Homo sapiens: one gene and its partner. The protein of the gene in region 1 purifies or fractionates together with the protein of each later gene. This does not show direct contact. Each region holds a gene or a part of one and is shown on either strand. Other genes may lie near its edges.

What was found. The genes of interacting proteins can lie anywhere in the genome.
Region 2: the proteins of SEC24B (region 1) and NAA15 fractionate together in Homo sapiens (co-fractionation; one large-scale study listed by BioGRID). This does not show direct contact.

What each region holds. Positions count from the first base shown.
Region 1 is NC_000004.12:109,524,285-109,527,938, reverse strand, and holds part of SEC24B (protein transport protein Sec24B), read right to left. Parts: intron 3,122-3,654; coding exon 2,998-3,121; intron 2,594-2,997; coding exon 2,435-2,593; intron 1,714-2,434; coding exon 1,540-1,713; intron 618-1,539; coding exon 507-617; intron 1-506. UniProt on the Homo sapiens protein: Component of the coat protein complex II (COPII) which promotes the formation of transport vesicles from the endoplasmic reticulum (ER).
Region 2 is NC_000004.12:139,307,958-139,311,611, reverse strand, and holds part of NAA15 (N-alpha-acetyltransferase 15, NatA auxiliary subunit), read right to left. Parts: intron 1-3,654. UniProt on the Homo sapiens protein: Auxillary subunit of N-terminal acetyltransferase complexes which display alpha (N-terminal) acetyltransferase (NAT) activity. The NAT activity may be important for vascular, hematopoietic and neuronal growth and development.

The DNA.
Region 1 (3,654 bases):
TTTAGAGATTATGAATTCCCTCAAAGATTTTGAAAGTAAGATTAAGGAAGAAATGTGAGGACAGTCTGATTCACAATGCAGTAAATAAAAATGTAAAACATATGCTTTTTAAATAAGAGAAAATCCTAGCTTCAGTTTCTTTCTTTCTTTTTTTTTTTGAGACAGAGTCTCACTCTGTTGCCCAAGCTGGAGTGGAGTGATTGGAGTGATGCGGTCTCGGCTCACTGCAACGTCCGCCTCTCAGGTTCAAGCAATTCTCCTGTCTCAGTCTCCTGAGAAGCTGCGATTACAGGCGCCTGCCACCACGCTCGGCTATTTTTTCGTATTTTTAGTAGAGATGGGGTTTCACCATGTTGGCCAGCCTGGTCTCAAACTCCTGACCTCGTGGTCCGTCCGCCTCAGCCTCCCAAAATGCTGGGATTACAGGCGGACGCACTGCCACCAGCCAAGCTTCAGTTTTTAAGATAGAAAAATACATTTCACATGTTCCTTCAATTTTTACTCACCCATGTTTGCCAGAAGGCAGATGGCAGCTTGTACATCCACTCCCGCATATACATCTGCTAGTGAACTTACCACTGGCAAACAAAGTGTATGTACTCTAATTCTCCGCTCACCTAAAAAAAAAGTCATTGAAAATACATTAGATCAAAAAGGAAATAAAGCAAAGCAAACATGTCAAATACTTTTTTTCTTTCTTTCTTTCTTTTTTTTTTTTTTGAGACGGAGTCTTGCTCTGTCTCTTAGGCTGGAGTGCAATGGTGTGATCACAGCTCACTGCAACTTCTGTCTCCTAGGTTCAAGTGATTCTCCTGCCTCAGCCTCCCAAGTAGCTGGGATTACAGGTGCCTGCCACCATACCCAGCTAATTTTTGTATTTTTAGTAGAGATGGGGTTTCACCAGGTTGGCCAGGCTGGTCTGGAACTCCTGACCTCAGGTGATCCACCCACCTCGGCCTCCCAAAGTGCTGGGATTACAGGCGTGAGCCACCGCCACATCCAGCCACAAGTCGAATTTTTATTCAAGTTATTGTTTTGGCTAGATTACATCACCAACAGGATTTTGAGATGTAAAAACCAAGTTTTACAATGAACATTTTTAAAAGAAAATTAAACACTCTCCAAATCTGCAGAGTATGAACATACGCTATATCACTCATTCTAAATTATATCCTATAGAGTAAAATACCAGAAAACTTAACTGTCAAGTAACAAATGAAGGCCTTAATTGCTAAGCAGTTTTTTACTTTTTGGGGCAAGAAATAATACAAAGAATGGCATAGCTGGATTTAGCATGAACTGTTTTGAAACAAGATTCTAAGAATACAAGTCTTCCATAAATTAAAAAAGTGTGCTATTTAAAGATGCAAAAGTGAGAGTTAAAAAAAGAAAGAAAATAACAACATATGTTTGATTAACTAATACAAATTCCATTACTTCCCACTGTGTATTCATTCTTTTTCCCCACTCCACTAAAGGCCATGTGAAAGGAGGGAGGAATTACTGCTGCAGACTATATTTCATTTCTGTTAACATTACCTTTGCTTGATGTATATAATAGGGCTGTTTGAAAACATACTAAGGAAGTATCTGTTAAACTTTCTTCAATTGACAACTGCACCGCAAATCCAGCATCAGGATTGATGTTGGCAAGGGATAACAAATCAGTAGAACGGACAAAGAAGTTACCGTGAAAAGTGTGCATTGAAAGACCTAAAAAGGAGAAAATCATAAAAAATCAAGTTAACAATAGTATCTTCACCTCAAGCTAAAGTTACTTTTTTAAGTCAAAGATGTTTATGATTTTGAATCAAAAGGATAACTGGGGAGTCAAGGTTCAAGCATAGGCAGAGTTTCTAAAATATTAATTCAAAAAAACTAGTGGACGTTATATAAAAGGGAGACTATACATTTCACTTGTATTGACACCTAACCTTATTTACATTTTCTCACATGTGACTTGAAGTCAGACATAATCTGACTAAACATTTAATTTACAAAATTAAGCAAATGAGGGTTATTATATAACTCATCCTAGATTTAAAATAAAGGTAAAATAAAGGATTAAAACAAATATTCACATAAAACCAAGGAAGTGTACATTAAATGATTATGAAGGCAAAGACCCTTACTTTGACAATTCTTATTTAAGATCTTCCCTATTCCTCTAATTCTCCTTCTAAAATCATTTCTAATATAGGCTTTCTCTTAGGTTCTTCTGAGTAAATCAAACATTACTTTTGTCTACTTATTCAAGTTATTTTTAAAAATTGGGCAAGGATTATTCAATAACTATTATCTATTTAAAACATGGTATAGCTAATGAGATCAAACAGTCTTCCATCATGAACAGTCAGAGGTAGTCAATACATGGAATGCTCACTGACTTTGATACAAGTATTTAATATAAAATATAACTTTTACAACTTCATACCTTTAGTACACCTTATTCTCATAACAGCTTCAAACCCAATTTTTCTTGTGAGATACCGTTTTAGGTCTTTTTGTAACTTTTCTGCTTGTGAAGGATTGTGAGTATAGTGGAATGATGGATAATAATAGATGCACCCTGCAGAATACTTGGACATGCAAGCTTTAGAGAGAAATACAAAAAGTATTAGCTATAGAAATAATAATATTTTACTTGTCCAACAGTAGTACAGATTCTACATTATGAAGAAATCTAAGTCATGAGAAAACCTAAGCCATCAAAATAAGAACATACAAATCTGAGAAAACAGTAATATCTATAAAATATATGATAAAGTTTACTGTTGAGCAGAATGGTAAGGGAATCATGCTATCTAAACAAAATACAAGTGACATTTTATATTTGTATAGTGCTTTAAACTTTACTGGTAGTTTTCATAGATATTGTCTATCTAATGCACATGCTTTTCTCCCTAAAATATAGAGAATGCTTACTGAAGAGTTTAGATTTAATTATGCATTAAAAATGTTCATTTAAACAAATGTACCCATGATGACTTTCCTTACCTAGAGAAGCAAGATCAGAATACTGTGAACTTAAAAGGAACAAATCCACTGCAGTTTGCTGTCCCGAGCAATCTAATGCAAGTTTCTTATAAAAATCAGTTGCAGGGCCAAGATGTTGTACCACCTAAGTCAACAGATCATATAGTAAGAGCTAGCAATCTTTATGCTCATATTTTCATGTCATTTTTATAACAAAAAGGATATCCTCTGCCTCCCTACCAAACTAAGAGTTTTCTAAATGTCTAGGCATTTGGTGCAGATTCCCTATGATAATAATAATGATAGATAATCTTTATAAAAAACACTTATGTGCCAGCACTGTTTCACACAAATTAATTTTCATAACACATCTCATATGGTTTTTATCATCTACATTTTCAGACGAAGAAACTGAGGCAATAACTGATTAAGTAACTTGACCAAGATTACATAGATATTGAGAAGTGGATATTGGAATATCAACCCAAGAAATCTGGCTGCAGAATGAGTGCTGTTAACCATTATTAAATATTGTTAAATAACTTAAGAGAGTAAAAGATTAAGGAAGGTGTTTCTTTTGGTATGAGAAGACTTGAGCTGAGAAGGTGACACTGGAGAGAGTCTCCAAGTTCTTAATCATCATACAACATTTCCTAAAAAAAAGTTTCAATCCTCTTA
Region 2 (3,654 bases), about 30 Mb from region 1:
TGCCAAAACCAAAGAAACAATAACAAAATTTTCCTCTTATTATGCTTTTGTGATGAAAGGCTATATAAACAAATACTATAATTCATTTATAAATTAAACTTCAAAGTCTTACCATAATATAGGCTCTGCCCAATATCCTACAATTATTTCATACACTAATGTACTCTGTAATGCCAAAGCCCAGCTTAACTCCCTTCTCCAAAAATTTATGCAAGCACACAATCCAAAGATCTTTTTCTCTCTTGCCCTGTAATCACTATTTTCACACTCACTTCACATAACAAATATTTATTAAACATCTACTATGGTACATCATTTTAACCAATGTGAATAGAGCCATTAACAGACGTCCTTATCTTCATAAACCCTACATTTTAATTGTGGAAAACGTGATAAACATAAAAGTAAATGTATGTCAGAAGCTGATAAATGAGAATAAAGTAAGAAATAAGAAAATAAGGTGAGAAGGACTGACTGCTAGCCAAGGAAGGTCTCTAAATAACATTTAAAGGACACCTGTTTAGCCAGGCATGGTGGCATGTGCCTGTAGTCCCAGCTACCCAGAAGACTAAGGTGGGAGAATCGCTTGAACCCAGGAGACAGAGGTTGCAGTGAGCCGAGATCACACTACTGCACTCCAGCCCTCCAGCCTGGGCAACAGAGTAAGACTCTGTCTCAAAATTTTTTAAATTAGGCCAGGCATAATGGCTCACACCTGTAATTCCAGCATTTTGGGAGGCCGAGGCAGGTGGATCACCTGAGGCCTGGAGTTCAAGACCAGCCTGGCCAACATGGTGAAACCCCGCCTGTACTAAAAATACAAAAATTAGCCAGGTGTGGTAGGAGGCACCTGGAATCCCAGCTACTCAGGAAGCTGAGGCAGGAGAATCACTTGAACCCAGGAGGCAGAGGCTGAAGTAAACTAAAATTGTGCCACTGCATGCTAGGCTGAGTGACAGAGCAAAACCCTGTCTCAAAAAATAATAATAAAAATAAATTTAAAATTAAAAATAAAGGACATCTGAGCAGAAGTCCTAAAACAAATAAGAAAAATGAGTCACACAGGTATCTGGGGGAGAAAATTCTGAACAGTCCTTTGCATATGATCCTTTATACGACATAGCTTTTTATGTCCAAAAATGTTTTTTTTTTTTTTTTGAGACGGAGTCTCGCTCTGTCGCCCAGGCTGGAGTGCAGTGGCGGGATCTCGGCTCACTGCAAGCTCCGCCTCCTGGGTTCACGCCATTCTCCTGCCTCAGCCTCCCAAGTAGCTGGGACTACAGGCGCCCGCCACTACGCCCGGCTAATTTTTTGTATTTTTAGTAGAGACAGGGTTTCACCGTTTTAGCCAGGATGGTCTCGATCTCCTGACCTCGTGATCCGCCCGCCTCGGCCTCCCAAAGTGCTGGGATTACAGGCGTGAGCCACCGCGCCCGGCCCAAAAATGTTTTTATGAAGAAAGAAGATATATTTGAATCAATGCTCTGTCAGAACTTCATTGTCAGAAGCAGAAATATTAAAAGATATAAGACTGCACACTAAGGAGAGGGATCCCTTCAGTTGAGGCCAGCTGGACAGTATCTCTCCAGTCCCCCAATCACACCGAGCACCATGCCCGCCCCTCTGGAAACTGTTCATTAACCAGCGCTCCAATAGTTTGGATGGCAATTCTATTATCATCAAATAACTAGTTTGAGCCCCAATAATGACCCAGGACTGCAAGACTTTGACACATCTAAAAAATGGAACATTAAATTCAGTTCCCTTTTAAGCTTTAGTCTGCTTTTCTGAAAATATAGTGTTGTCCATCTACTACTATTGAAAACTGAACTGTGGTCACTCTGCACAAACAAGTATTTTTAACCCACTCTATTGACGCAAAAGAATTTTTAAAAAATATTTTTTAAAACATTTCAGGTTTCTAACACAATACAGAATTTTAAAAATATATGCTGTCAGTTTAAAACAAAAACATATATTTGTTCATTCATACTGCATCTCACTCCAGAAAGACAAAAATTAAAAAGTAAGCAAACAGGCCAGGCGCAGTAGCATGTACCATAATCTCAGCTACTTGGCAGGCTGAAGCAGGAGGATCACCTGAGCTCAGGACTAGCCTGGGCAACACAGTGAAATCCTGGACACACACACACACACACACACACACACACACACACACACACACTTAAAAAGCAAGCAAAGAATAAATTTACCACATTATTAAAAGATTTTCACTTCTCACTAGATTTTTTTTTTTTTTTTTGAGACGAAGTTTCACTCTTGTCCCCCAGGCTGGAGAGCAATGGCGCGATCTCGGCTCACTGCAACCTCCACCTCCTGGGTTCAAATAATTCTCCCGCCTCAGCCTCCCAAGTAGCTGGGATTACAGGTGCCTGCAACCACGCCCAGCTAAGTTTCGTATTTTTAGTAAAGACGGGGTTTCACCATGTTGGCCAGGCTGGTCTCTAACTCCTGACCTCAGGTGATCCACCCGCCTCAGCCTCCCAAAGTGCTGGGATTACAGGCGTGAGCCACTGTGCCCGGCCCTCACTCGATTTTTACAGAAAAATCATTTTGTAATTTTTATAATAATTATATACACATTATATACACATATATAAAATAGCAAAACTGCATTTTGTTTTCTGGTATACTTTTAAGGGATAATTTATCCGAGTTTAAATTTACGATTACCGGCAGGGTGCGGTGGCTCACGCCTGTAATCCCAGCACTTGGGAGAGGCTGAGGTGGGTGGATCACCCGAGGTAAGCAGTCTGAGACCAGCCTCGCCAACATGGCGAAACCCTGTCTGTACTAAAAATATAAAACTTAGCTGGGTGTGGTGGTGGACACCTGTAATCCCAGCTACTGGGGAGGCTGAGGCAGGAGAATCACTTGAACCTGGGAGGTGGAGGTTGCAGTGAGTCGGAGAGTGCAGTGAGCTGAGATCACGCCACTGTACTCCAGCCTGGACGACAAAAGTGAGACTCCATCTCAAAAAAATAAATAAACTTATGATTAACTACTAAGAGCTGAATGGGATTTCAGAACAGACCAAACTTTGTTTCCATTTTTTGATTTTTTGTTATATTCTAAATATATGAAGTACAAGCAAAAGTATATTAAAACCAATTTCAAAGTTACTGTCCACTCTTAGTTGCAAAACTGGAATTCTGTCACAAAGAAATTAATCAGTTAAACTTTCATGTGCATATGGACACCTACTTGCTAACAATTCCTAATCTAAATTTCATCAGCAACTGAAGCTAAACTAAGTATCATTAACTAGCAGAAACATTAACTTTCCCAAAGAAAATAAATCACATAAAATAATTTACCTATTATACAATGGGCCGGGCGCGGTGGTTCATGCCTGTAATCCTAGCACTTAGGGAGGCCAAGGCGGGCAGATCAGGAGGTCAGGAGATCGAGACCATCCTGGCTAACACGGTGAAACCCCGTCTCTACTAAAAATACAAAAAATTAGCTGGGTGTGGTGGCAGGTGCCTGTAGTCTCAGCTACTCAGGAGGCTGAGGCAGGAGAATGGCGTGAACCCGGGAGGCAGAGCATGCAATGAGCCGAGATTGCACCACTACACTCCAGCCTGGGCAACAGTGAGACTCCGTCTCAAAAAAATAATAATAATAATAATA